Homo sapiens: one gene and its partners. The protein of the gene in region 4 purifies or fractionates together with the protein of the main gene of each other region. This does not show direct contact. Each region holds a gene or a part of one and is shown on either strand. Other genes may lie near its edges. The genes, in order: DDX19B, SLC27A2, METTL9 and ARMC6.

What was found.
Region 1: the proteins of ARMC6 (region 4) and DDX19B purify together in Homo sapiens (co-immunoprecipitation; 2 studies listed by BioGRID and IntAct, with this or other methods). This does not show direct contact.
Region 2: the proteins of ARMC6 (region 4) and SLC27A2 purify together in Homo sapiens (affinity purification with mass spectrometry; 3 studies listed by BioGRID and IntAct, with this or other methods). This does not show direct contact.
Region 3: the proteins of ARMC6 (region 4) and METTL9 purify together in Homo sapiens (co-immunoprecipitation; 3 studies listed by BioGRID and IntAct, with this or other methods). This does not show direct contact.

Annotation. Positions count from the first base shown.
Region 1 is NC_000016.10:70,294,969-70,302,191, reverse strand, and holds the start of DDX19B (ATP-dependent RNA helicase DDX19B), read right to left. Parts: upstream 3,007-7,223; 5' UTR 2,895-3,006; coding exon 2,838-2,894; intron 1-2,837. UniProt on the Homo sapiens protein: ATP-dependent RNA helicase involved in mRNA export from the nucleus.
Region 2 is NC_000015.10:50,199,186-50,206,212, reverse strand, and holds part of SLC27A2 (long-chain fatty acid transport protein 2), read right to left. Parts: intron 3,727-7,027; coding exon 3,568-3,726; intron 975-3,567; coding exon 850-974; intron 1-849. UniProt on the Homo sapiens protein: Mediates the import of long-chain fatty acids (LCFA) into the cell by facilitating their transport across cell membranes, playing an important role in hepatic fatty acid uptake.
Region 3 is NC_000016.10:21,602,560-21,609,586, reverse strand, and holds part of METTL9 (protein-L-histidine N-pros-methyltransferase isoform 1 precursor), read right to left. Parts: intron 1-7,027. UniProt on the Homo sapiens protein: Protein-histidine N-methyltransferase that specifically catalyzes 1-methylhistidine (pros-methylhistidine) methylation of target proteins.
Region 4 is NC_000019.10:19,043,596-19,050,622, forward strand, and holds part of ARMC6 (armadillo repeat-containing protein 6), read left to right. Parts: intron 1-396; coding exon 397-479; intron 480-7,027.

The DNA of each region.
Region 1 (7,223 bases), on a different chromosome or scaffold from region 4:
TCTAGGACTTTGGGAGGCTGAGGCATGCGGATCACTTGAGGTCAGGAGTTCAAGACCAGCCTGGCCAACATGGTGAAACCCCACCTCTACTAAAAATACAAAAAGTAGCCAGGCATGGTGGCACATGCCTGTAATCCCAGCTACTCGGGAGGCTGAGGCAGGAGAATCGCTTGAACTCAAGAAGCAGAGGTTGCAGTGAGCCAAGATCGTGCCATTGCACTCCAGCCTGGCGGACAAGAGCGAAACTTCATTTCAAAAAAAAAAAAAAAATTAAAGGGCCAGTCCAACAGATCCAACATTCATCTAATAAGAGTTCTGGGAAAAGCTATGCAGTGGTGCGCACCTGTAGTCCCAGCTACGAGGGAGGCTGAGGCAGGAGGATCACTTGAGCCCAGGAGTTCAAGGTTGTAGTACACTATGATTCTGCCTGTGAATAGCTACTGCACTCCAAATTGGGCAACATAGACAGACACTGTCTTAAAAAAAAAAAAAAAAGAGAGAGAGAGAAAGAAAGAGAGAAAGTGAGTTCTGGAAAAGAGGGAATTAAGAAAAAACAAAGAAGAAGAAATCAGCAATGAAATTATTCAGGAAAAGTTCTCATAACTGAAGAACAAGAGTTTTTCAGATTGAAAGTACCCACACCCAGGGGCCAGTAATATGGATGAAAATACACCCATACCAAGACATATTACCATAAATTTTCTGAATATTAAAGACAAACAGAAGATTCTCCAAGCTTAGAAAGGGGAAAACAAGTCACATCAAGAATCAGGATGGTCTCAAACATTTCAACAACAAATACAGAAATCTAGAAGGCAATGGAACAATACATTTAAAATTTGGCAGGAAAATAATTTTCAACCTACAATTCTATACCCAGCCAAACTATTATCCAAATTACAGGGCAAAGTTAGATTTTTTAAGACATGGAATATTCTTAAAGTAATTTACTTCCCGTACACCTCCAGAAAGCTGACAGATGGCTGCACTAAAATAAGGAATAAATCAAGAAAGATGGAAAAGTAGGGGTACAGAAAGGAAGGGATCCAAGAGATCCAAAAGACAAGAGAAAGGAGGAAGGAATCTGCAGAATGAGGCTGAAGGGAAATTTGCCCTGTTCCCTCTATTCCCCAATATGAACTGTGCTCTAAAGACAGGAGTAACTAGTCCAATTTGAAGCAGACTTAAAGGCCTAGGAGAAATGGAATTGATAGAATACTTGATGAGTCTAAGCATCCTGAGATAAACTTAGACAACTGGAAGACAGTTTGGGGTTGAATTGATAATTAAGAAAAAAAAATGAAGCATAAACATAAGGCAATTAAGAATTCCAAGTAAAATAAATTTTATAGAAAAGTAAAGGGCCAGGCAAAGTGGCTCAGGCCTATAATCCCAACACTTTGGGAGGCCGAGGTGGGAGGATGGCTTGAGCCCAGCAGGTCAAGACCAACCTGGGTAATATAGTGAGACCTCGTCTTCACAAAAAATTAAAAAGTTAGCTGCATATGTTGGCACATGCTTGTAGTCCCGGTTACTCAGGAAGCTGAGGTGGGAGGATCACTTGAGCCTGGGAAGGGGAGGTTGTAGTTGGCAAGAGATGGTGTCAATGCACTCCAGCCTGGGTGACAGGGCAAGACCCTCTCTCAAAAAATATATGTAAAGAAAGAAAGAAACAGAAAAAAGAGGCTGGATGCAGTGGCTCACACCTGTAATCCCAGCACTTTGGGAGGCTGAGGCAGGTGGATCACTTGCACGCTGGAGTTCGAGACCAGCCTGGGCAACATGGCAAGTCCCCATCTCTACAAAAAAAATACAAAAAGTAGTTGGGCATAGTGGCACATGACTACAGTCCCAGTTACTCAGGAGGCTGAGGTGGGAGGATGGCTTGAGCCTGGGAGGCAGAGACTGCAGTGAGCCAAGATCACTCCACTGCACCCTAGCCTGGGCAACAGAGTGTGACCCTGTCTCCAAAAAAAAAAAAGGAGTTGCCTCTGGGGAGGAAAAAAATTGGCGGGAACCGTTGTTTTTAAAATAACTTCACTCTTTAAACAATGTGTATATACAACTTATTTTTTATGAGCTATAAAAAATAAAAGACAAGGTTCTTATTCTTGAGGAAGTCATAGCAATAAGTACTAACAGAAGTAGGTTCAAAGCCTACTAGGATTTAAAGTGTTTCGGTGGGAGAAATTAATTCTACGCAGTAGTGTTTAACACATCTCTTGCTTACCATGTGTCAGGTCCAGAAAAAAAGAACAAAGTGAAGCCGATGAGGAAAGGATTTGCTGACTGCCACACCTACTGGGTCCATCATTTATCACTGAGGAAGCACACAAATATGAGCAAAGACATGGTCCCTGAGCCAAAGAAGCTCTGAATGTAGAGGTGGAGAATGACACCTAAAATAACTATTACAAACCGGGGCGGCCAGGAACAATGGCTCAGCCTGTAATCCTGGTGCTTTGAAAGGCCGAGGCAGGAAGATAGCTTGAGACCAGGAGTTCCAGACTAGCCTGGGCAACCTAGCAAGACCATGTCTCTATTTCAATTAAAAACAAACAAAACACAATCTAGGGTGATGGGTGCAATCTATGATTCTTCCTGGTTCCAGGAAGACAGACAGGCAGCTGAGCGCTTTACCGATAGGAGCACTCACCTGCGCTTACGTAACGCGGAGGCGGCTGCGTAAACAAAGCCAGCTCAGGGTCCAGGCTCCATCCCTATCCTCCCCGCCACCCCATCCAGCCTCTAATCAACCTGGGAAACATTCTTTCCCAGGGACCAAGTCTCCGACCAGAACTAGTCCCCTGACCCTTTTAGGGCTGAAGCCAACTCACCGACTCAGCCGCAGCTTCCTGCTCGTCCACCGCCAGGGCCCATGAGTCAGTGGCCATGGTCCCAGGCGCGGGTGGGACGCTCGTGCTGGTGGATTCGAGGGATGGCACGAGGGATCGTGGGCTCCGGGGGTTCGCGGCAGGCTCTGCTCCAGCCCCACTACAAGGCTGCAGACCGGAAGCGGCGCGCCACAGTGACGTCGGAGGCCACTCCTGTTTGGCCACCCTTTGCCCACTTGAGGCTGTCGATTCTGTTGCCCTCAGACCCGTACCCCTCAACCCCGGGCAGAGCAAGCTTTCCTATCAAGCTGAGGTAGTTATCTTAAAATGCCTAAGCTCTGGTTAACTTGGATCTCCAACCAAAGAACAAAATCAGATTCCCGCCCAACACAGTGGCAGAGTAGGCACTAATACAGATTGAACAGATTGAATATATCAAAACAGAAAACCATTACCAATAGTCACCAAAATGCAAAACAAGCACAGAGCTGTTTCCCTTTTCAGATTGGTAATTTAAAATGTCCAGATGTTGGCAATCAGCCCTGACAACCCATTTGGTTAAAAGTCCACTTGACCACTATGCAATCTTGTTAGGCATGTAACAAAACTGCACCTGCACTCATAAATTTGTACCCCAAGAGGAGGAATTGCAGCTCTCCTATGTAAGCGTTGTAGAATCAGGAGAATGTTAAAAAGGAAGAAAACAGACGGTGCGGTGGCTCATGCATGTAATCCCAGCACTTCTGGAGGCCGAGGCGGAAGGATCACTTGAGCCCAGGAGGTCTAGGCTGCAGTGAGCCATGACAGGGCCACTGCACTCCAGCCTGGGTGACAGAGCAAAACTCTGTCTAGGAAAAAAATAAATAAAATTAAAATAGTAAAATAATTAAATAGAGCTAGGTGTGGTGGCTCATGCCTGTAATCTCAGCACTTGGGTTTTTGTTTGTTTTTTGAGATTGAGTCTGGCTCTGTCGCCCAGGCTGGAGTGCAGTGGCACGATTTCGGCTCACTGCAACCTCCACCTCCTGGGTTCAAGAAATTCTCTTGCCTCAGCCTCCCAAGTAGCTGGGATTACAAGCATGCGCCACCATGCCCAGCTAGTTTTTCTATTTTTAATAGAGATGGTGTTTCACCATGTTGGCCAGGATGGTCTCAATCTCCTGACCTCGTGATCCGCCTGCCTTGGCCTCCCAAAGTGCTGGGATTACAGGCGTGAGCCACTGCACCCGGCCTTTTGTTTTTTTAAGATAGAGACAGATCTTGCTGTGTTGTCCTGGCTGGTCTCAAACTCCTGAGCTCAAGTGATCCTCCCACCTCCACCTCCCAAAGTGCCAGGATTGGCCAGGCACAGTAGCTCACATGTGTAATCCTAGCATTTTGGGAGGTGGAGGTGGGAGGATCGCTTGAATCCAGGAGTTTGAAAACAACAACATAGCGAGGCCTTATCCTTACACAAGAAAAATTTAAAAATTAGCCAGGTGTCGTCGCACATGCCTGCAGTTCCAGCTACTTGGGAGGCTGAGGTGGGAGGATCACTTGAGCCCAGGAGGTTGAGGCTGCAGTTAGCAGTGTTTGTGTCACTGCACTCTAGTCTGCGCAACAGAGTAAGACTCTGCCTCATAAACAAATAAATAAATAGGAAGAAATATCTTGGGCTTTTAGTAGTTGTAAAATAAGGATTAAATGAAAGAACTGCTTTCTCCTAACTAGAATCAAAGAAGCTTCTCTTCCCTTGTTACTTCCCTAGAAAGAAACTAGGCATTTTCCTACAATCTGAAAAAAATGAATCCCAACCTCTTTCATTTTGCCAATATTATACAACAATAAGTTAATTTCAAGCCATGAGGCCGGGCACAATGGCTCACACCTGTAATCCCAGCACTTTGGGAGGCCAAGGTGGGTGGATCACCTGAGGTCAGGATATCAAGACCAGCTTGGCCAACATGGTGAAACCCTATCTCTACTAAAAATACAAAAATTAGCCAAGCATGGTGGTGCACACCTGTAATCCCAGCTACTTGTAAGCCTGAGGCAGGAGAATCACTAGAACCCGGAAGGCAAAGGTTGCAGTGAGCCGAGATCATGCCATCACACTGCAGCCTGGGCGACGAGTGAAACTCTGTCTCAAAAAAAATAAATAAATAGACTGGGCACGGTGGCTTGCACCTGTAATCCCAGCACTTTGGGAGGCCAAAGCAGGTGGATCACGAGGTCAGGAGATTGAGACCATCCTGACCAACATGGTGAAACCCTGTCTCTACTAAAAATACAAAAATTAGCTGGGTGTGGTGGCATGCACCTGTAGTCCCAGCTACTTGGGAGGCTGAGGCAGGAGAATCGCTTGAACCCGGGAGGTGGAGGTTGCAGTGAGCCAAGATCATGCCACTGCACTCCAGCCTGGACGACAGAGCAAGACTCTGTCTCAAATAAATACATAAATAAAAACAAACAAACAAAAATCAAGCCATGGTGGGTTCTCTGTGGAATTTTACCAGTACTGTAAGAGTAAAAACGTTTTGAGAAAGGGTAAAGCAGTTCCAGAGAACATTCTACTTGCTATGATTATTTTTTCCTGCACTCTCACAGGGTTAACTGGAGAAGACGTTTTTGTTTTTTGTTTTTGACCTTACACATGAGGATGTGCTAAAAAGAAAAAGGCAAACACCACCTTGGTAGCCATGACCTACATCTCATCAATTCAGAAGCAACCCTGGGGATATTTTCCCAGATAAATTATATTGTTTCACAGGGCTAGAGGTTAATGAAATTTGCAAAACATTTTAATGAGGTTAAAAATTACATCGCCCAAGTTGCAGGACCGTATATAGTAGGTTCACTTGTACAAAACAAACAGGAACCCCCACCCCAAAAGCCCCCAAGCTCCCATATATGCTTTTATACACTATGGAAAATGCCTAAGAAGACCGGAGCAGTGGCCTGTGTCTGCAGTCCCAGCTACTCCTGAAGCTGAGGTTGGAGGATCGCCTGAGCTCAGAAGTTCGAAGCCAGCCTGGACAACATAGTGAAACCATCGCCTCTTAAAAAAAAAAAAAATGTGGCCAGGTGCGGTGGCTCACGCCTGTAATCCCAGCAGTTTGGGAGGCCAAGGTGGTGGATCACGAGGTCAGGAGTTCAAGATCAGCCTGGTCAAGATGGTGAAACTCTGTCTCTACTAAAAATACAAAAATCAGCTGAGCATGGTGGTGGGTGCCTGTAATCCCAGCTACTTGGGAGGCTGAGGCAGAGAATTGCTTGAACCCAGGAGGCAGAGGTTGCAGTGAGCTGAGATCATGCCACTGCACTCCAGCCTGGGCAACAGAGCGAGCCTCTGTCTCAAAAAAAAAAAAAAAAATGCTTAAGATACACACAAAACTGATAACCATGGCTGCCCCTGGTGAGGGCCTCTAGAAGGGTGGGGGTGGATTGAGTATGCTTTATCCTCTGAAATTATTTTCCATATGCATGGTTTTTTTTAAATTAGAGACAGGGTCTTGCTATGTTGCCCAGGCTGGAGTGCAGTGGCTATTCACAGGCACCATTACAGCACATACTATATCCTTGAACTCCTGAGTTCAAGAGGTTCACCTGCCTCTGCTTCCCAAGTAGCTGGGACTACAGGTGTGTGCAGCTGTGCTTGGCTCCATGTTTCCCTTTTAAAAATGTATTTCAGACAAACAAGAAAGGGTATAACAAATACTTAGATTCCCACCTCAAAACTTAATAAATAAAATTACTAAGGTCCAATTGATAATCTCCGTATACTCATCCCAGGAAGACAGCAGCTATGCCAAATTTGGTGTTTATCCTTCCCGTACACGATTTTAGCATGTGTTTTTTCTTCTACTAAATAAATATGCAAGCCTGGGCAACATAGGGAGACCCCGTCTCTACCAAAAAAAAAAAAAAATTTTTTTTAAGTAGCTGGGCGTGGTGGCGTGAGCCTGTAGTCCCAGCTACTCCTGAGGCTGAGGTGGGAGGATCACTTGATCCCAGGAGTTCAAGGCTGCAGTGAGTCGTGATCATGCCACTGCACTCCAGCCTGTCTCAAAACAAAACAAAAAACAAAAAAACTTAAAAATAGCATCGGGGTTTCAGACTCTCCTAAGTTCACCCCCAATACACCTGCGCTTTGTGAGACTCCGGCTAAGAAGGAACCTGGTTTCCAAAGCGGGCGTGGAAAGAAGAGTGTTCGGGGAATAAGAGCATCTGGATTGGAATTCAGCCTCCTGCATTTATTCCCACGTGAGCCTAGCCAGTCTCAGTTTCCCCTGAAATCACAGGAAGTACCCACCTCACAGATGGCGGATTCTAGATCACAAGGCTAAGACCTTGGGCCGAAGCCTCGAGAAATATTGTTATTCCTCTACCCAGGAGTAGGGGCGAGGAAGG
Region 2 (7,027 bases), on a different chromosome or scaffold from region 4:
CTACTGGCATCTCGTGGGCAAAGTCCAAAGGGTGCTAAACACTCTACAATGCACAGAATAAGTCCGCGCGGCAAAGAATTAAAAGCCCAAAATGTCAGCAGTGCCACCATTGATAAATCCTATCTGATACCAGATCTCTGATGAGAGTTGAGGGACTGGGCAGGAGGAGCTCTTGAGAACAACCCCATCGAGAGCTGAACATCTGCAAACAGGGCAGATCCAAGGCCATTGGAGATGCCCTGGGGCATCTGTTCCCAGCTTGGTGACAGACTTGGCTGGCTGGTTTCAAAGTCACACAGAGATTTATTTGTTAAACAGCATTAAGTAAAAGTTTCCTGTATGCCTTCGGTATAACAGAAAACAAGGAGACAAGATGTGGTTCCAGCCATCAAAGATATTACAGCCAAGGAAGGATGGGAGACATGAACACAAACTCCTGCAACATGACAAGGGCCACAGAGGGTAGAAATAAAATGACGTAGGGGAGAAGAGTAATGACTTTTGTTGGAGTGACCCAAATATGTTTAATGTATGAGGTATCATTTGAACTGGGCTTTGACACTGGCTTTTAGTAAGCAGAGGGGGAAATGCAGGATATGCTAGGTGGGGAGTAAGATGTGAAAACAAGTAAAAAGGCAGGAAATAATCATCATCATAATAATAATATTAACTCCCACCTACTAAGTCCCCTCTATATGGTAGGTATAGTGCCAAGTACTTTATCATGATAATTGTATCCTAAACTCAAAACTGATATATGCAAATCAGTTGAAGCCTAGCACAACCCAAAGTGACTTGAATTTCCATCTTACCCATTTCAAAATGATAGTAAAACGGGGGGAGTGTTACCTGTGGTGAGTTGCATAAATACCGAAGCAGTTCACCGATATACTGAATGACAGTGACGTTGTATTTTCTGCAGTCATCCCAAAACTGGCTGGCTGAAAATTTAGTCCGCAAGGCAAGAGTAGCACCTACAGAGAAAGCACAGAAAGTGTCAAGAAAGAAATGGTGGAAAAAATTCTCCCAGTTATGTTTAATTTGTCAACTTTGAACGGTAGAAATTTAAAAATAAATTATATTTGCAAACAAGTATTGAGTACCTTATATTCAAATGCAAAAAATTAGTAAGACATGGTTTTGTTCGATAGGGGCTTCCAATCTATGGAGGAGAAGACTCATACAAAGGTCATTTTAATAAAAGTTAGCTTGCAGTAAGAGATTCAAATGAAGTCCTAAGAGGGAGGGAGGGGAGAGGGAAAGAGATTTCATGCAATATATATATATATTATATTATATATATACTAAATATATGTATAAATAGAGTGAGACTCTGTCTCAAGTATATATATATACACACATACATATATATACACACACATACATATATATTATATATATACACACACACATACATATATATGTATTTTATATATATATATTTGAGACAGAGTCTTGCTCTATTTTTTTTTCTTTTTTTGAGACAGAGTCTCGCTCTGTCACCCAGGCTGGAGTGCAGTGGTGCCATCTCGACTCACTGCAACACCCGCCCCCCAGGTTCAAGTGATTCTCCTGCCTCAGCCTCCTGAGTAGCTGGGATTACAGGCGCGTGCCACCACACCTGGCAAATTTTTTGTATTTTTAGTAGAGAAGGGGTTTCACTGTGTTAGCCAGGATGGTCTCAATCTCCTGACCTCGTGATCTGTACCCCTTGGCCTCCCAAAGTGCTGAGATTACAGGCGTGAGCCACCGTACCTGGCCCGGGTCTCACTCTATTGCCCAGGCTGGAGTTCAGTGGTGAAATCTTGGCTCACTGCAACCTCTGCCTTGTGGGTTCTCGTGCCTCAGCCTCTAAGTAGCTGGGATTACAGGTGGACACCATCATGCCTGGCTAATTTTTGTATTTTTTAAGAAGGGATGGGGTTTTGCCACGTTGACCAGGCTAGTCTCAAACTCCTGACCTCAAGTGATTCGCCCACCTCAACCTCCCAAAGTGCTGGGATTACAGGCATAAGCCACTGTGCCTGGCCCATTCATGCAATATTTTAAATAACTTTGTGCATAAAACAAAGTTTGTGTTAAGTACTTATGTGTAGTATTTTCCACTTGTGGTGTCCTGGTGCTTAAAAAGTTACAGATTTTGGAGCATTTTGGATTTCAAATTTTTGGATTGTGTGTGTGTGTGTGTATGTGTGTGTGTTTGAGCTGCTATAACAAAATAGTACAGATGGGTGGCTTAAACAACATTTATCTCTTGCAGTTCTGGAGGCTGGGAAGTCCCGATCAAGGTGTCTGGTGTCTGGTGAGGGCATTTTTCCTGGTTTGGGGATGGTCATCATCTCCCTGTGTCCTTACATGGAACAGAACAGAGTCAGGAAAGAAGCTGGCTGTCTCCTGTTCTGATAAGGGCACTACCTTTCATGAAGGCACTACTCTCATGACCCAATTACTTCCCAAAGGCCCTACCTGCTAATACCATCATATTGGGGGTTAGGATTTCAACATATACATTTTTGGGGGACACAAATATCCATCCATAACATGCATGCATATACACACACGCATATATGTGTGTGTATATACATATGTGTATATATTTTTATATATACATATATGATTATTTAAAATGAAATGCCACATGAGAGAAAAAGTTGTTTATTTAGCTCAGTCAGAAAGTTACATATAGCTTCCTGGAAGAGTTGGCTATTGAACTTTGCGGTAATGTATACAAGTGACATGAATCCTCCTGGAAGGAGAGAGGATGGCAACTCCAATTTGAATAGTAAAGTCTGAGAAGGAAACAGAAGAGATGGCAAGCCAAGCCAAGCCAAGTATTCTGATGGAGTTGCCATCTTCTCTCCTTCTAGTAGAGCTGAAAAGCTGTGGAAATGGGAGATTACAGAAGAGTGCACACAACTGCAGAAGTTTAAAGCTGATGGAGATTAACATGCAAGTTTCTAAAGATGGAAATGACATGACATAGAATCTAAGACTCAAGTGTCATAACCTAAAATTTTTTTTTTTACAGTCAAGGTCTCACTCTGTCACCCAGGCTGGAGTGCAGTGGTGCAATCACAGCTCACTGCAATCTTGAACTCTTGGACTCAAGCAATTCTTCTACTTCAGCCTCCTGGGTAGCTGGGACTACAGACTTGAGCCACCATGCCTGGCTATATATATATATATATATATTTTTTTTAGAGATGAGGTTTGCTATGTTGCCCAGGCTGGTCTTGAACTCCTGGCCTCAAGCAATCCTCCTGCCTTGGCCTCCCAAAGTGCTGGGAATACAGGTGTGAGCCATTGCACCCAGCCCTAAAATATTTTAAAGGAGTTTGTCTCTTGATATACTGAACAATTATAGCATTACATTATTAGATAGGCAGGCATGAAAAACAGATTATTTTAGATGCTTGCTTGTAATATGTGATTCAAATTGCCTTATTGTTAATGCAAAATTGAAAACTGTTCCTAGCAGACAGCAACGTAGCCAAATTTTGTATTACTGTTCCTTCTGGGAAAATGTAAATGTGCACTCGCCTCCAACATTTTGTAGAAAAAGCTTACCAGCCACAATACATCCGTGAATGCCAATCAGTAGTGCAGCACTGTGGTAAAAGGGCAGAGTGATATAGATGACATCATCTGCCTTCAATCCGCTTACAAAAGTGAGGCCAGTTCCATACCATATGCGCTGATGAGTGATCATGGCTGCTTTTGGAAGACCTTTGTAAATATACAAGAGAAGGCATGAGTTAACCAAGATTGGGCATTTACAGTGTAGGAGAGAGATCTGGCTTAGGAAGATTCATCACCCTGTATTTTGAGAATTGCACTGGGAAGGGCCATGACCAGTTAGTCCAGGAGTTGACAAATGTTTTCTATAAAGGACCAGGGAGTAAATGTTTTGGGATTGTGGGTCATACAATCTCTGTTGCAACAACTGAACTCTGCTATTGTAGTCAAAAGCAGCCATACACATACATAAATGGAGTGTGGCTGTGTTCCAATAAAACTTTATTTACAAAAACAGGTGGGAGGCTGTATTTGGCCCACAAGCCATAGATTGCTAACTCCTGAGTTAGATGGTTATGACAGTAGTAATCTGAAGAGAAACAGAAACAGAGGAATGACTGTCCATTGAATTTCTGCCCTGTGGCTACCACTTTGCAAGACATTTTAAAAATCCATAACAAGTTTATATATGACATAAACAGAATTATATTCTCCAATCCACAGATGTGAAGGCTGAGAGTCAGAGAGATTTCTTACGTACTAGAGTTATTTTATACAAACAAAGCAAATATGAACATTTGCTTATATGTTCTTGCCTTTTCCATTAAAAAATATGCACACTTGGCCAGGCGCGGTGGCTCACGCCTGTAATCCTAACACTTTGGGAGGCTGAGGCGGGCGGATCACAAGGTCAGGAGATCAAGACCATCCTGGCTAACATGGTGAAACCCCGTCTCTACTAAAAATACAAAAAATTAGCCGGGCGTGGTGGTGGGTGCCTATAGTCCTAGCTACTCAGGAGGCTGAGGTAGGAGAATGGCATGAACCTGGGAGGCAAAGGTTGCAGTGAGCCGAGATAGCGCCACTGCACTCCAGCCTGGGTGACAGAGCAAGACTCCATCTCAAAAAAAAAAAAGAAATATGCACACTCTTTTGCATGTTTTTTGTCTCTGCTGCTTAACAATGTTTACTGGAGATTTGTTCATGTTTGTACATAAAGATTTCCCTTATTTATTCATTTATTTATTCTCTTTCTCAGCTCCTTCAAGTCCTTTTATAAGTGTATTATAATTTATTTATACTATTTGCTGTTATAAATGATGCTGCAGTGAAGAAGCTCGTCCACGTGGCAATTCACACTATGAATGACACCATATCTTTTGGATAAATTCACTGAAGTGAGATTGTTGTGTCAAAAGATAAAAGTTGGCCAGTCCTGTAATCCCAGCAATTTGGGAGGCTGAGGCAGGAGGATCGCTTGAGCCCAGGAGTTCAGCACCAGTCTGGGCAACATAGTGAGACCCCTCCTCTACAAAAAGTAAAACAAATTAGCTGGGTGTGGCGGTATGCACCTGTAGTCCTAGCTACTTGGGTGGGATGATCGCCTGAGCCCAGGAGGTTGAGGCTACAGTGAGCCCTGATCCTGCCACTGTACTCCAGCCTGGGCAACAGAATGAGTTTCTGTCTCAAAAAAAGAGTAAGAGTCTTTGTAATTTTGATAGATAACTTCCACATTGCCAGTTATAAGGGCTGTCCCCATTCATTCTCCTATCAGCAATACATGAGTGTGCCTGTTTCCTCCTAGCCTTGTCAATGTGTGCTCTTAAATGTTGGGGCCTTTGCCAGTCTGAAAGGTGAAAAACCGTATCTCAGTGTAGTTTTAGTACATTAGACTAAATGCGCTTGCACTTTCTTAACCATAATTTATATACGTTTTTTGTAAGATTTTCTTCTGTAAGTGTATGCTTATGTTGTTTCCCATGGAAGAACAGTTCAATTGGGGAGGGCATGAAGTCACTGGGAAGGGGACTAAGAGTTTAAGATCTGAGTGGGTAAACAGACTTCGTGAAGAGGAAGACAGATCTCTGTTGACTCAGATTCTTCAATACTTGGTGGTACCTTCACCAGATAGTGCCCAAATAGCAGCAACTTGTTACAAGGCAGACAAATATGGCTAGCAACCTACCATTATTGTAAACACAATTCAAAATTCATTTTCTTTGACAATGGCCCAGTTTTTTGTTTTGTTTTATGTATTATTATTATTATTATTATTATTTTTGAGATAGGCTTTCACTCTGTTGCCAGGCTGGAGTGTAGTGGTGTTCAAGGCTCACCACAGCCTCAGGTCAAGTGATCCTCCTGTCTCAGCCCCCCAGGTATCTGGGACCACAGGTGTGCACCACCATGCCTGGCTGTTTATTTATATTTTTTGTAGAGACAAGGTCTTGCTTTATTGCCCAGACTGATGTTGAACTCTTGGCTTCAAGTGAGCCTCCCATCTTGGCCCCAAAGTGTTGAGATTATAGATATGAGCCATCATGCCTGGCCTCTGAAATTTTTAAAAAGAAATGCTCATCTTTGTTGCCTTGAAGTACTTTCAGAACTTTCCTAAATTAAGATTTTGTATTAATGAATAAATGAGAATATCTGGTAACTATTATATAATTTTGTGCTAATGACTTCCTTTGAGGAGCAGGAACATTTATTCTCCAACTGTTTAAACAAATTCTTTTAATTAATGTTTACAAGAGTAACTTAGCACTATTTTTTTTCTACAGACAGTGCCTTGCTCTGTCACCCAGCATGGGGTGTAGTGGCACGTCACTGTAGCCTCAGACTCCTGGGCTCAAGTGATCCTCCCACCTCAGTCTCCCAAGTAGCTAGGACTACAAGGTGTACCACTATGCCAGCTAATTTTTTAATGTTTTTGTAAAGATGTGGTCTCGCTATGTTGCCCAGCCTGGTCTCAAACTCCTGGGCTCAAGTAATCCTCCTGCCTTGGCCTCCCAAAGTTCTGAGATTGTAGATGTGAGCCACTGTGCTTGGCCTAGCAAATATTTGATTCAGAGAAAATGAAAAAAGTAAAATAAACACCCTTCTAATTGTCTTCCAATTAAATATAAATTCTGACTTACGAGATTAAATCAGAGGATGCTCATTCTCTTTTTTCTCCCTAAAAGGGGTTTTCTTTTTTTTTCTTTCTTTTTTTTTTTTTTTAAGACAGAGTCTCGCTCTGTCGCCCAGGCTGGAGTGCAGTGGCGCAATCTCGGCTCACTGCAAGCTCCGCCTCCCTGGTTCATGCATGCCATTCTCCTGCTTCAGCCTCCTGAGTAGCTGGGACTACAGGTGCCCGCTACCACACCTGGCTAATTTTTTGTACTTTTAGTAGAGATGGGGTTTCACCATGTTAGCCAGCATGGTCTTGATCTCCTGACCTCGTGATCTGCCTGCCTCGGCCTCCCAATAAAAGGGGTTTTCTATTTGACTGTGAAAACATGCATTGTAACAA
Region 3 (7,027 bases), on a different chromosome or scaffold from region 4:
CTCTCTCTTCACCTGGTTCGTTCAACTTCAGCCTAAATATTTCCTAGGTATATTTTCTTTTCAAAGGAAAATATACCTACGAAAGGCTAGGCTAGGCCCCCTGTTCTAATACCCTTTCATACATCCCATTTGTCCCTTTGGTAATATTTACAATCTCTGAATTGAATAATTGTAGACAATCGCATGTTCAGTGCCTATCTTCCCAGGTAGACTGAGAGCTTCATAAAGGCAGAGAAAATGAATGGCTTCAGTGCCTGGCACAGATACAGACAAACAATAAATGTTCATCAACAGGCAGCCTAAACAGAATTTGGAGTTTCTAACAAAATCCTAGAGGAAACATAAGGATAACCACAGAGATCGCTGCCATGGGGTTTCTGTCAATTTCTCAAACTCTGCAAGGCCTTGCTTAAACCTAATTTTGCAACCAGTGGTTACAGCTACCCACTCACCACAAAATTGCATTACCACAAGCAAGGAAGCAAGCAATGAAGGAAGACACCAACTGAGCACCTATCATGCACCAGGCACCAAGCCATGTGCTTTACATTTCATTTACCACCTTGCAATTTCTGAATAAATGGGAAGCATAGGGTCCCTAAGCAGCTCCAGCTGATTCAAGCTCCTGCTCCAGGTACGTGTTGTTTTATAAGCGTTTCTTTCAAAGAAGCTTCTCTTCACTTAACTCTACCCAGTGTGTCTGCTAAAGAAAAGAAAGCAGGACTATCCTGCCAATTAAACTGAACTACATGTGTGTAGAGAAAAGATAATCTGGTCTAGATAGTAACTAAAGTCCTGTAAGCCAGGGTTTCTCAGCCTTCACACTACTGACATTTGGAGCTAAATGATCCTTTGTTATAGGGGCTGACCTGCACATTGTAGGATGTTCAGCAGCATTCCTAGTGCCTATCCATCAGGTTACAGTGGCACTACCCCAAATGACAGCCCAAAATGTCCCAGGCATTGCCAAATGTCCCCTGGGAGGCAAAACTGCCACTGCTTGAGAACCCATACATGGCCTTACCCACAAAATGTCACTGTACTGACTCTCCAGTAGTGTTTCCCACTATCCCAGCCTAACTATGGTCTAGGGACTCCAGCTGACTGAATTAAAAGATGGACTCGCTGGCCTCAGAGAACTTACATTCCAGAGTGAAAATAAAATCAGAAACCAAGGGAAACAAGTAATGTGACTATGATCTTGGCGAGGAGCTTCAGAGCCTTAAAGGAGCAGTCACCTTGCCCTTAAGGTGAAATACCAAGGACCAAGGAGAGAAAAAATCTGCAGGAACCCCTTTAACCCAATGGGCAGGACTCCTGGTTTCACCTCTCTCCAAACAACCAGCTTAGATAAAAAGCTACGCTAAGCTCGCAGCACTGGGTGGCTTGTCTGTATGCTCCTGTGTACTTTCAAGCAGGTGAGTTCTTTGTTTTTTTTGAGACGGAGTCTTGCTCTGTCGCCCAGGATGGAGTGCAGTGGTGTGATCTAGGCTCTCTGCAACCTCTGCCTGCCGGGTTCAAGTGATTCTCTCGCCTGAGCCTCCCAAGCAGCTGGGATTACAGGCACCTACCACCCCGCCTGGCTAATTTTTGTATTTTTAGTAGAGATGGGGTTTCACCATGTTGGCCAGGCTGGTCTTGATCTCCTGACCTCAGGTGATCTGCCTGCCTCGGCCTCGCAAAGTGCTAGGATTACAGGCGTGAGCCGCTGCGCCCAGCCGCAGGTGAGTTCTTTAAATGTGTGCTCCTTAAAGACTACAGAGACAAAGGTGCACAGGCAAGAACAAAGTACTATGCCCGTTAAATTCACACACTGACAGGACTACACGCCCACTCTACTGTGAGGCTGGACTCCTTGGCTGGAGCCTACCATGTCTGAAAAAGCATCTTATTAGCATCTGCCTTTAAAGCTCACTCAAATGTTGTTTCATCTAAATAAACAAGGGAATCTTTTAAATGACAAATTCTAATCAAATGAGAATGATTCCATTCAGTCATCTGCTGATGCCAAGTACAGAACAGGATGTGATATCTAAAAATTACAGTAAATAGCAATATTCTCCCTACTGGCAACACAACTGCAAAGATACTAATAATTGGCCAGGCAGTAAACAGCCAAATCAGGTGGCTGCCACGCGTTTTGAATGCATGTCTGACAGTATTCGCCAACCGAAGTTATTAAATATTAGGTCATACTGTCTTAAAAATTTCCTGGCTGGCTACGATGGCTCACACCTGTAATCCCAGCAATTTGGAGGCCCAGGTGGGCAGATCACTTGAAGTCAAGAGTTCAAGACCAGCCTGGCCAACATGGTGAAACCCCGTCTCTACTAAAAATACAAAAATTAGCCAGGCGTGGTGGCAGGAACCTATAATTCCAGCTACTTGGGAGGCTAAGGCAAAAGAATCACTTGAACCAGAGAGGCAGAGGTTGTAGTGAGCCCAGAGTGTGCCACTGCACTCCAGCCTGGGCGACAAAGCAAGACTGTCAAAAAAAAAAAAAAAATTTCTCATTAAGCCCATGAACTCCTCCTAATATTTATATATAACCTTGGTTGATGAATCACTCGTTCAAAGTAGGAATGCAATTTTCCTATAAAATTAGATTTGCTAATCAGACCAAATATGGTTAAAAGTTTTTCTGAAATTATTTTTGGAGTTTATCAACTAATCAAACATGTGATATACAACATATCCAAAATACAACATTCCCAAAATACAAAGGATTTAAGCACACTAGCAGAGTCAGAAAGTAATTTTAAAAACTGACTGATTTTAGATGATGTGGTATAATAAAAAATACATATTTGATCTTTGTCCCAGGTTCCTGATAGAGAGTTCCTAAAACCCTTCGGGAATCTCAGGGTAATAAGAGTATCTTTTGTATGCTAACAGGATGACTCCTGATAGGGGTGGGAGACCCAGACAGCTTCAGGATGGGGACCAGGATGTGGGTATAAGGTTCAAACTTTCAGCCCCACCTTCCAATCTCCAAGGATGAGAAAGGAGTTGAAGACTGAGTCTAATCATGCCTATGTAATGACACCCCTAAACTATGGGGTCCTGGGAGCTTTTAGTTTGCTGAATACATTGATATGATGGTTGGGTGGCTCATCAGAGGAAAGAGAAACTCTACACCACCTCCCACACCTCACCCTATGCACCTCTTCCACTTGGCCGTTCCCCAATTGTATCCTTTGTAATAAACCAGTAAACCTAAGTGGTTTATTATTATTATTATTATTATTTTGAGACGGAGTCTCGCTCTGTCGCTCAGGCTGGAGTGCAGTGGCGCAATCTCAGCTCACTGCAACCTCCGCCTCCACGGTTCAAGCGATTCTCCTGCCTCAGCCTCCCCAGTAGCTGGGATTACAGGCACGTGCCACCACGCCCAGCTAATTTTTTTGTATTTTTAGTAGAGACCAGGTTTCACCCTGTTAGCCGGGATGGTCTTGATCTCCTGACCTCGTGATCCACCCACCTCAGCCTCCCATAGTGCCGGGATTACAGGCGTGAGCCACCGCACCTGTGTTTTCCTAAGTTCTATGAGTCATTCTATTATAGGAAATTAGGGGGTGGGGTGGGGTAGGGTGAAGGTAGAGTTGTGGGAACTCCCAAATTTGTTCAAGGTGGACAAAAGCACTGGCAGCCTGGGAACCCAGGACTTCCAGCTGGCCTCTGAAGTGAGGGCAGTCTTGTGGGACTGAGCTCTTAACTCTGTAAAGCGTGACCCTAACTCCAGGTAGTTAATGTCAGAACAGGATTGAACAATTAAACACCCACTTGGTGATGGAAAATTAGAGAATGGCTGATGTCAGGAAAAAATGACAATACATGTAAGAATCTTTTTTCAACTTTAAGCCTTAAAAAAAGCATGCACAAACCAGATAAAGGCCAGAACTTCAAGCAGCTGTCTTATTCTCATCTAATTCACAAACTACAAAATCTTCAACAAGTATTGTGCACACAGCTACCTAACTTCAGTGTCTACACAGAGGCCTCACTAGAATGAGGGCAGTTTCCTATTCAGAAGGCAAGCCTAGGCCAGGAGCAGTGGCTCACGCCTGTAATCCCAGCACTTTGGGAGACTGAGGCAGGAGGACTGCTTGAGGCCAGGAGTTTGAGACCAGCCTGAACAACATGGCAAGACCCTGCCTCTACAAAAGATTTAGAAGCTACTCAGGAGGCCGAGGCAGGAGGATGTACTGAGGCCAGGAGTTTGAGGCTGCAGTGAGATATGATCAGGCCACTGCATTCCAACTTGGGTGACAGAGTAAGAACTTGTTTCTCAAAAAAAAAAAAAAAAAAAAAAAAAAAAAAAAAAAAAAAGAAGGCAAGCCTATTTTTACCACCCCTCAGACAACACAAGGTTTACCAGGAGGGGCATCATAAAGCAGCAGAAAATGTGTTGCCTTGAAACCAAAGCTGGGTGCAAAGCCCAACTCTATCATCCATTAACTCTGTGCTGGTGAGCAAGTCTCTTCTCTCTCTCACCCTCACTTTTCTGTATGTAAAGTGCGGATGATACCACCAACCTCCAAGAGTTCTATGTGGACTACTGGGGATAATATATTTGAAGTGCCTGGCACACAATAGAAGGCCAGTAGCTCTTCATATTTCCTTCCCCTTTCTCTCCAAGGCAAGGGCTGGTCAGAGGAGAAGTACAGTTCAAGGGAATGCCTAAAAACCAAACTGTAGGTCTAGGCATCCAGCCATTCTCAAAAGAAATGGGTAATCAAAGACCCAAGGCATTCAGGGCTACCAAAAACAATCAGAAAAGCTCCACTGCTCAGGATCTATGAACACAGAATCTTTTCTAAGTTGGCCAGACCAACTCCATCAACAGAGCTTGACAGCTAAGGATTCAAAATTCACATTCTAAGATTTTACAATGCAGTCAACTCAGTCCAGACATTTCACCATGCACACCTTGCATTTAAGCACAGCATAGGCGTAAATATTCAGACCATTCACCATTTTCCCACAAACAATATAAACTCAACCCAATAACCTCTTTATGTGAGATTTCAATGTGTACAGTGACAGGCACCCTCATATCCATGAGGGGAATCAATTAAAACAGATTAAATGGCTTCAGCTTTGATTTAATAACCAATTACTGGCAATCCTCATTGCAAATACTAAATACTCACTCCCCATAGGACAGGATAATCCTAAAATTTTAACAAAGCTTCAGAGGGTCTACACAACAGAGCTTTTTACTGGAAGCTATTAGGGTCTTCTAGGGCACCTTCAAAGAGAAACATAAAGACTCCTGGTATATCCAGCACAAGAAAGAGATTCTAGTGTTCTGTGAAACTGAAGCAAACACTTGGGGTTTCAACACAGATTATGAGGAAGCAAAGAAATCCTTTCTGAAGTCTCTTTGGTATTCAGCTGCAAAGGCCTCCAGACTCTCGAAGGCAGTTCAGAGAAGGACGCCAATCCATCAGTGTCTGTCCGGCTTAGCTGGCTGACTATCCTTGAAGCATTGTTAACTCATGCCTGACTCCAGTCTGCCTCCACAGGGTAAGTGAGGGGTAAAGGGACAGGAAACACTCTGTCCTTTAGCACAGTGTTTGGCTCTGGCTATGCTGTCCAAGTATTTTTTCATTTGGGGGAAAAAAAAGGATTTTAATTCTTTCTTGAATTCTTCATCACTTGTGGCATAGCGCAGTTCTGAGCTTATATAAGAAAGTGAAAAAATAAGTCACAAAAATATACACATACTTGCAATTTTAAGTTACAACTTAATAATTCCAGATATTGAATGTTATCTGTGCTTTTAAAAAACCTTGCAGTATGTCACCCGGAGAAATCGTTGTGGTTTGGTTCAGCGAGTTCTATAACAATTTTTTCACTCCATCAATTGAGAAGCTACTGAACCGCTATTATTACCAAGAACCTGGGGCCTAAGGGTCCTTTCAAAGTTTCAGTAGCTCCATAATAGTTGCATTAACTTTAAGCACTAGGTGCAATGCATCAAAAAGAATAGATCCTAAGTTTTTTGTTGTTGTCTTTTTAAATTCTGAGTCTGCCAACATTGCAAAGTGACAATATCTACTAGTTTCTCACTGCCTGCCTCTATTTCTTCCCAGTGAGTCAATCTACCCACCCTGCAACCTGTGATTAAGAATATGCTGTTGGAGGCTGGTTGCAGTGGCTCACTCCTGTAATTCCAGCACTTTGGGAAGCCGATGTGGGAAGATCACTTGAGGCCAGGAGTTCAAGACCAGCCTGGCCAACATGGTGAAGCCCTGTCTCTACTAAAACTACAAAAATTAACCAGGTGTGCTGGCACGTGCCTGTAATCCCAGCTATGGAGAGGCTGAGGCATGAGAACCGCTTGAACCCAGGAGGTCGAGGATGCAGTGAGCTGAGATTGTGCCACTACACTCCAGCCTGGGTGACACAGTGAGACCCTGTCTCCAAAAAAAAAAAAAAGCTGTTTGTTAAGGAAGCTGGGAATTTCTCTTGGAAAAAGTCTTTATTCTGTAAGAAGCCACGTAGTAAATGTTTTAGGCTTGCAGGCCATACAGTAGCAAATATGCTGCTATTGTAGCCAGGGAGCTCATAGACCACAGGTAAATGAATGTGGTAGTTCTCTTTCAATAAAACTTTATTTGTGGGCTGGGTGTAGTACCTCACGCCTGTAATCCCAGCACTTTGGGAGGCCCAGGAAGAAGGATCACTTGAGGTCAGGAGTTTGAGACCAGCCTAACCAACATAGTGAAACCCCATCTCTACTGAAAACTACAAAAATTATCTGGGCGTGGTGGTGTTCACCTGTAATCCCAGCTACTCGGGAGGCTGAGACATCAGAATTGCTTGAACCTGGGAGGCAGAGGTTGCAGTGAACCAAAATTGGGCCACTGCGCTCCAGCCTGGGTGACGAAGCGAGACTCCATCTCAAAAAAAAAACACTTTATTTGTAGACACTGAAATAAATTTGAATTCCATAAATGAAACTTCATGTATTACAAAATGTTATTTTGATATTTTCTTGGTAACCATTTAAAAATATAAA
Region 4 (7,027 bases):
CTGTGGGGGTGCCAGCAGGGGCAAGAATGCAGCCAGAGCCAGGAGGGATGGGAGCCCCAAGGGAGAAGGCTGTGGGGTCCCTCCCTCCCCCACCAAGCCCACCAGGCAGCATGTGGCACCTCACTGCACAGACGTGGCCTGTGATGACAGCCTTGTGTGACAACGGCCTCACTACCACTCTGCTCCCTTTGGCCCACGGACCAGTGGCAGAAACACCCAATACCCTCTACACCCCCGTGATGATGTGGCATGGGCGGGAATAGGGAGGTGGGAGGCTTCTGGAGTGGGGTGGTCCCAGCAGAAGGGTCCTGAGGTGTGATTCCAGCAGGCCCACGGGGATGACAGCTGTCACTTTCTTTCTGACCCCTGTGTGCTTGCTTCCCCCACCCCCAACAGGGGTTGATCTGAGCAACATTGTAAAGACGGCACCTAAAGTCTCTGCAGACGGATCCCAGGAGCCCACACATGACATCCTGCAGGTAGGAGTGGGCATCCCACACAGCAGGTCCTGCGTCACCTCTGTCTGGGGGCACCTCTTCCCTGTTTCCTGGATGGCAGAATACAGGCTCTGAAGGTCATGCCCTCCCCAGCATGCATGGGCAAGCTTGAGTTTGCAGCCAGGTCTCCCTGAGTCCATGTCCGAGGGCGGCATGCCTTCCAATGCAGGGGATCCCAGGCTCCTGTGGTGGCATGTATGCTGAAATCAGGTAGATGGCTTGGTTGTCCCTGCTGCTGGGATCCCAGAGTCAGGGACACCATAGAGGTGCCCCTCTGGCTTCCCAGAGACAGATGGTCAGGACTCATAGGACGAGAGAGTGGGCTCACAGTAAGGCTGTCACTTACTGAGCACTGACTGTTTACCAGCACTTTCCAGCCAGTCCGTTAGCACTGAAGCTCACCAGTGAAGTAGGTGGTGTCATTCCTGTCTTAGTGATGGGGAAACAGGCCAGGAGCTGGCACTTAACCTCTCCAGAGACCGAAAGAAGGAAGGTAAAAGAACTTCAATGCTTTCCGTAAGGTCGCCCATCAAACTTTGTAATACAGCAGAAGGCTCCGGTGTTTGAGAACCGACTGTGGGCCTGGTTCTGTGCAGGTACTTTTTTCCTGTCTTCTTGGTCACTGTCCAAACAACACCTGCAAGGCTGGGATTTCCCCATTGTAGAGATGGGGACATTGAGATCCAAAGAGAAGAGAAGTCATTGACATGGGAGCAGGAGGTGCAGTGATAGGAGAGGAAGTTGGAAGAGACGGCTCTGGGTGTAAACCCGGCTTGCCTAAGGCATGACACTTACTTCTCCCTACCTCGGGGTCCTGCCCTCTCCTGCCTTGAGGAGGTCTTGTGAAAATTGCCTCGTTGTTGTTAGTTTGCTTTTTGCCTTTCTTGCCTAATAAGGATGAATTTATTTTATTATATATATATTTATTTATCTATTGAGACAGAGTCTCACTCTGTTGCCCAGGCTGGTGTGCACTGGCGTGATCTCAGCTCACTGCAACTTCCACCTCCCAGATTCAAGTGATTCTCCTGCCTCAGCCTCCCGAGTAACTGGGATTACAGACACACGCCACCACACCTGACTAATTTTTTTGTGTTTGTAGTAGAGACGAAGTTTCACTATGTTGGCCAGGCTGGTCTCGAACTCCTGACCTCAGGTTATCTGCCCGCGTTGGCCTCCCAAAGTGCCGGGATTACAGGCATGGGCCACAGTGCCCAGCCTGGATGAATTTATTTTAAAATGAGTTTGTCTTCTGGCTATCTTTGCATTGGGTGATTCATCTTTTTCCTACTGATTTGTAGATGAAGTTTATATAGGAAGGATCTCAATAACAATATCGTCTATATTGTCTAGCAGTTACTGCTTAAGTACTTCTTAAGTGCTCAGCATTATGCTAAATTCTTTTTTTTTTTGAGACAAGAGTCTCACTCTGTTGCCCAGGCTGGAGTACACTGGCGCAGTCTTGGCTCACTGCAACCTCTGCCTCTTGGGTTCAAGCAATTCTCCTGCCTCAGCCTCACAAGTAGCTGGGATTACAGGTGCACACCACCATGCCCAGCTAATTTTTTTTTTTTTTTGAGACAGAGTCTCGCTCTGTCACCCAGGCTGGAGTGCAGTGGCGTGATCTTGGCTCACTGCAAGCTCTGCCTCCTGGGCTCACGCCATTCTCCTGCCTCAGCCTCCCGAGTAGCTGGGACTACAGGCGCCCGCCACCATGCCTGGCTAATTTTTTGTATTTTTAGTAGAGACGAGGTTTCACCATGTTAGCCAGGATGGTCTCCATCTCCTGACCTCGTGATCCGTCTGCCTCGGACTCTCAAAGTGCTGGGATTACAGGCGTGAGCCACTATGCCCGGCCTATTATGCTAAATTCTTAAAATATGTTCTCTTAATCTGTGCTCAGCCCATCTTGCTGGTGAGGTATCTGAGGCTTCCCAAGGATCAGTGACCACGCCCCTGCACCCCGAAAGGTCAGCTGGTGAGAGGCAGAGCTGGTACCCGGATCCAGGAAGCAAAGCACTGAAAGGCCGTTCTACCAGCAGTACAGGAAACTCCGTGTTTGTTTATAACATTCGCTCCTTTTTTTTTCTTAACTGTTCTTTTATTTATTCATTTATTTATTGAGACAGAGTCTCGCTCTGTCGCCCAGGCTGGAGTGCAGTGGCGTGATCTTGGCTCACTGCAAGCTCCACCTCCCAGGTTCATGCCATTCTCCTGCCTCAGCCTCTGGAGTAGCTGAGACTACAGGCGCCTGCCATGACGCCCGGCTAATTTTTTGTATTTTTTAGTAGAGATGGGGTTTCACTGTGTTAGCCAGGATGATCTCGATCTCCTGACCTTGTGATCCGCCTGCCTCGGCCTCCCAAAGTGCTGGGATTACAGGTGTGAGCCACCACGCCCAGCCTATTTATTTATTTTTTGAGATGGAGTCTCACTCTGTTGGCCAGGCTGGAGTGTAGTGGCCCTTCCTCAGCTCACTGCAGCTTCCTTCTCCCAGGTTCATGCAATTTTCCTGCCTCAGCCTCCCGAGTAGCTGGGATTACAGGCGTGCACCACCACGCCCAGCGGATTTTTGTATTTTTAGTAGAGATGGGATTTCACCACATTGGACAGGCTGGTCTTGAACTCCTGACCTCAAGTGATCTGCCTGCCTCGGCCTCCCAAAGTGTTGGGGTTATAGGCATGAGCCACTATGCCCAGCCTATTTTTTGTTTTGTAGAGATGGGATCTTGCTATATTGCCCAGGATGATCTTGAACACCTGCCCTCAAGTGACCCTCCCACTTTGCCCTGCCAACATGCCAGGATTACAGGTGTGAGCCAACATGCTCACCTGTTTTTTTTTTTTTTTCTTTTTCTATTTCTTTTTTTTTTTTTTTTGACACAAACTCTCACTCTGTCACCCATGCTAGAGTGCAATGGCAGGATCTCGGCTCATTGCAACCTCCACCTCCCAGGTTCAAGTGATGCTCCTGTCTCAGCCTCCTGAGTAGCTGGGATTACAGGTACCTGCCACCATGCCTGGCTAATTTTAAATTTTATTTTTCATTAAGGAAGAGTGGAAATACATTCTTAGCATAAAGGATTCAAGCAATACTCAAGCATTTATAGTAAAATCTGAAAGTCCCTGCCTTGTCCCTCCCACCAGACACTGGGGTTTGCATCTCAGCGGTCAGTTCGCAACTGAACCAACCCCCTTCTCAAATGCCCTGCAGCATAATTGACCTTTGTGCATCTTGGCTTAGATGTGTAAAAAATGCTTATCTGTTGAGGGAGAAAAAAATTCAACATTGTGATGGTCGTTGAAATTAATCTGTTTGTGTCATAAGATTTGTTGCAAACAGGCTTGTAGAAACAGAAGGAAAATAATGTCTGGAGACTGTCCAGGGAAAAACTGAGCCAGCCAGGCCACATTTATATGTGGGAAGTTGTAGAATGAAAGGCATTAGTCACAGAGACTGAATGACTCCAGGAGTCAATGGGTAAAGCCCCCCTCCATGAGCAAGGTGGTGAGCGCCACAGAAAATTGTCATAGGTAGAACACAGCTGGCTCTGCCACCTGCATTTTAGCAACCATCTGTCAATGAAAATACTCTATAAAATATTTCAAGAGATTTATTCGGAACCAAATATGAGTGACCAAAGGCCCATGACACAGCCTCGGGAGCTCCTGAGAACATGTGTCCAAGGTGGTCGGGCTACAGCTTGGTTTTATACGTTTTAGGGAGACATGAGATATCAATCAATACATGTGAGACGTACATTGGTGTGGTCTGGAAAAGTAGGGCAGCTGAAAGCCGGGGCTTCCAGGTCATAGACACATTTAAAGATTTTTCTGGCCAGGTGCTGTGGCTCACGTCTGTAATTTCAGCATTTTGGGAGGCTGAGGTGGTCGGATTGCATCGAGCTGAGGAGTTTGGGACCAGCCTGGCCAACATGGCAAAACCCATCTCTACAAAAAATACAAAAATTAGGCCACGTGTGGTGGCTCACACCTGTAATCCCAGCACTTTGGGAGCCCAGGCAGGTGGATCACCTGAGGTCAGGTGTTCGAGACCAGCCTGGCCAACATGATGAAACCCCGTCTCTACTAAAAATACAAAAATTAACCGGGCATGGTGGCAGGTGCCTGTAACTCCAGCTACTCAGGAGGCTGAGGTAGGAGAATTGCTTGAACCCGGGAGGCAGAGGTTGCAGTGAGCCAAGATTGCACCATTGCACTCCAGCCTTGGTAACAAGAGCGAAATTGCATCTCAAAAAAACAAAAAACAAAAAACAAAAATTAGCTGGGCATGGTAGTGGGTGCTTATAATCCCAGCTACTTGGGAGGCTAAGGCGGGAGAATCACTTGAATCCAGGAGGCGGAGGTTGCAGTAAGCCGAGATCATGCCACTGTACTCCAGCCTGGGCAACAGAATGAGACTCAGAAAAAAAAAAAAAAGATTTTCTGATTGAAAGAGTTATCTAAAGACCTAGAATCAATAGAAAGGAATATTTTGCTTAAGACGGGTTGTGGAGATCAAGGGTTTATCAAGGAAGCCTCCAGGTAGCAGGCTTCAGAGAAAATAGATTGTAAATATTTCTTATCAGACTTAAAAAGGTGCCAGACTCTTAGTTAATTCTCTCCTGAATCAGGGAAAAGACCTGGAAAGGGAATCTCTGTAGAATGTAGCTTTTCCCCACAAGAGATAGCTTTGCAGGGCCATTTCAAAATATGTCAGAGAAATATATTTTAGGGTAAAATACTTTGATTTCTTTCCATACTGTATTAGTTAGGCTGGAACTTGGTGTCTTATTGCTACAAAAAAGTCTTACGATGATCAGTTATGTCTGACTTCCAAAGGCAGGAAGATAAAATGAGACATATTTGACCGCCACTTCCCATCATGACCTGAAGTAGTTTTTCAGGTTACCTTTGGAATACCTTTGGCCAAGAGGAGGGGTCCTTAGTATGGATGAGGACTTAGATTTTTTTTTTTTTTTTTTTTTGAGACAGGGTCTCCCCAGCTAGAGTGCAGTGGTGTGATCTTAGCTCACTGAAACCTCTGCTTCCCGGGCTCAAGCAATTCTTCAGCCTCAGCCTCCCATGTAGCTGACTACATGGTGTGAGCCACCAACATCTGGCTAATTTTTGTATTTTTTTTAGAGACAGGGTTTTACCACGTTGCCCAGGCTGGTCTTGAACTCCTGAGCTCAAAGCGATACACCTGCCTTGGCCTCCCAAAGTGAAGAGATTACAGGCATGAGCCACCATGCCCGGCCAAGAATTTTATTTTTAGTTTACACATCCTTGCTAACTTAGTAATTCCTTGTGAAATCTTGGTAGTTCTAACTCCAATACTGTGCATCCTCAAAGGCATTTCTGTCAGGAGCTTTTCAAGTTTCTTACAGGGTTTCTGCTGAAGTGCTACACCGCTGTTTGTTATGTAAAATGTGCATAAAAACATTTACCATTGTAACCATTTTTAAATGTAGAGTTCAGTGTCATTAAGTACATTCATAATGTTGTGCAACCATCATGACTATCCATGACTTGCGATACTGAAACAAACTCCATGTTCCTCTTCCCCTCAGCCTCTAGCAACCATCATTCTACCTTCTGTTGCTGCAAATTTGACTACTCCAGGACCTCATATAAATGGAATCACAGGCTGGCCACCCTGGCTTATGCCTGTAATCCCAGCATTTTGGGAGGCTGAGGTGGGCAGATCACTTTGAGGTCAGGAGTTAGAGACCAGCCTGGCCAACATGGTGAAACCCTGTCTCCACTAAAAATACAAAAATTATCCGGGCGTGGTGGCACATGCCTGTAGTCCCAGCTGCTCAGGAGGCTGAAGCGGGAGGATTGTTTGAACCCAGGAGGTGGAGGTTGCAGTGAGCTGAGATGGTACCACTCCACTCCAGCCTGGGTGACAGAGGAAGACTCCATCTAAAAAAAAAAATTTTTTTTAAATAAATGGAATCACAGTATTTGTCTTTTGGTGACTGTCTTATTTCACTTAGCGTAATGTCCTCAAGGTATATCCATAGCATACTATGTGCCTGAATTTCTTTGTTGTCATTGTAGTGTTTTTTTGTTTGTTTGTTTTTCTTTTTGGAGACAGAGTCTCTCTCTGTCGCCCAGGCTGGAGTGCAATGGCACGAGCTCAGCTCCCTGCAACCTCCAACCTCTTGGCTCTGATGAATCATGCTGCTATGAACATGGGTGTACAGGTATCTCTTTGAGACTGTGCTTTCAGTTCTCTTGAGTGTATCCCCAGAAGTGGAACTGATGGGTCACACAGTAATTCTGTTTGATTTTCTTTTTTGAGATGAATGCTCCGTATGTTGCCCAGGCGAGTCTTGAACTCCTGGGATCAAGTGATCCTCCTGCCTTGGCCTCCCAAAATGCTGGGATTACAGGCATGAGCCACCACGCCTGGCTTCTCTGTAGGTTTGAATTGCATTTTTCCTAATGATTAGTGACATTGAGCATCTTTTCATGTATTAGTGGCCATTTGTATGTATTCTTTGTAGTAATGTCTATTCTAG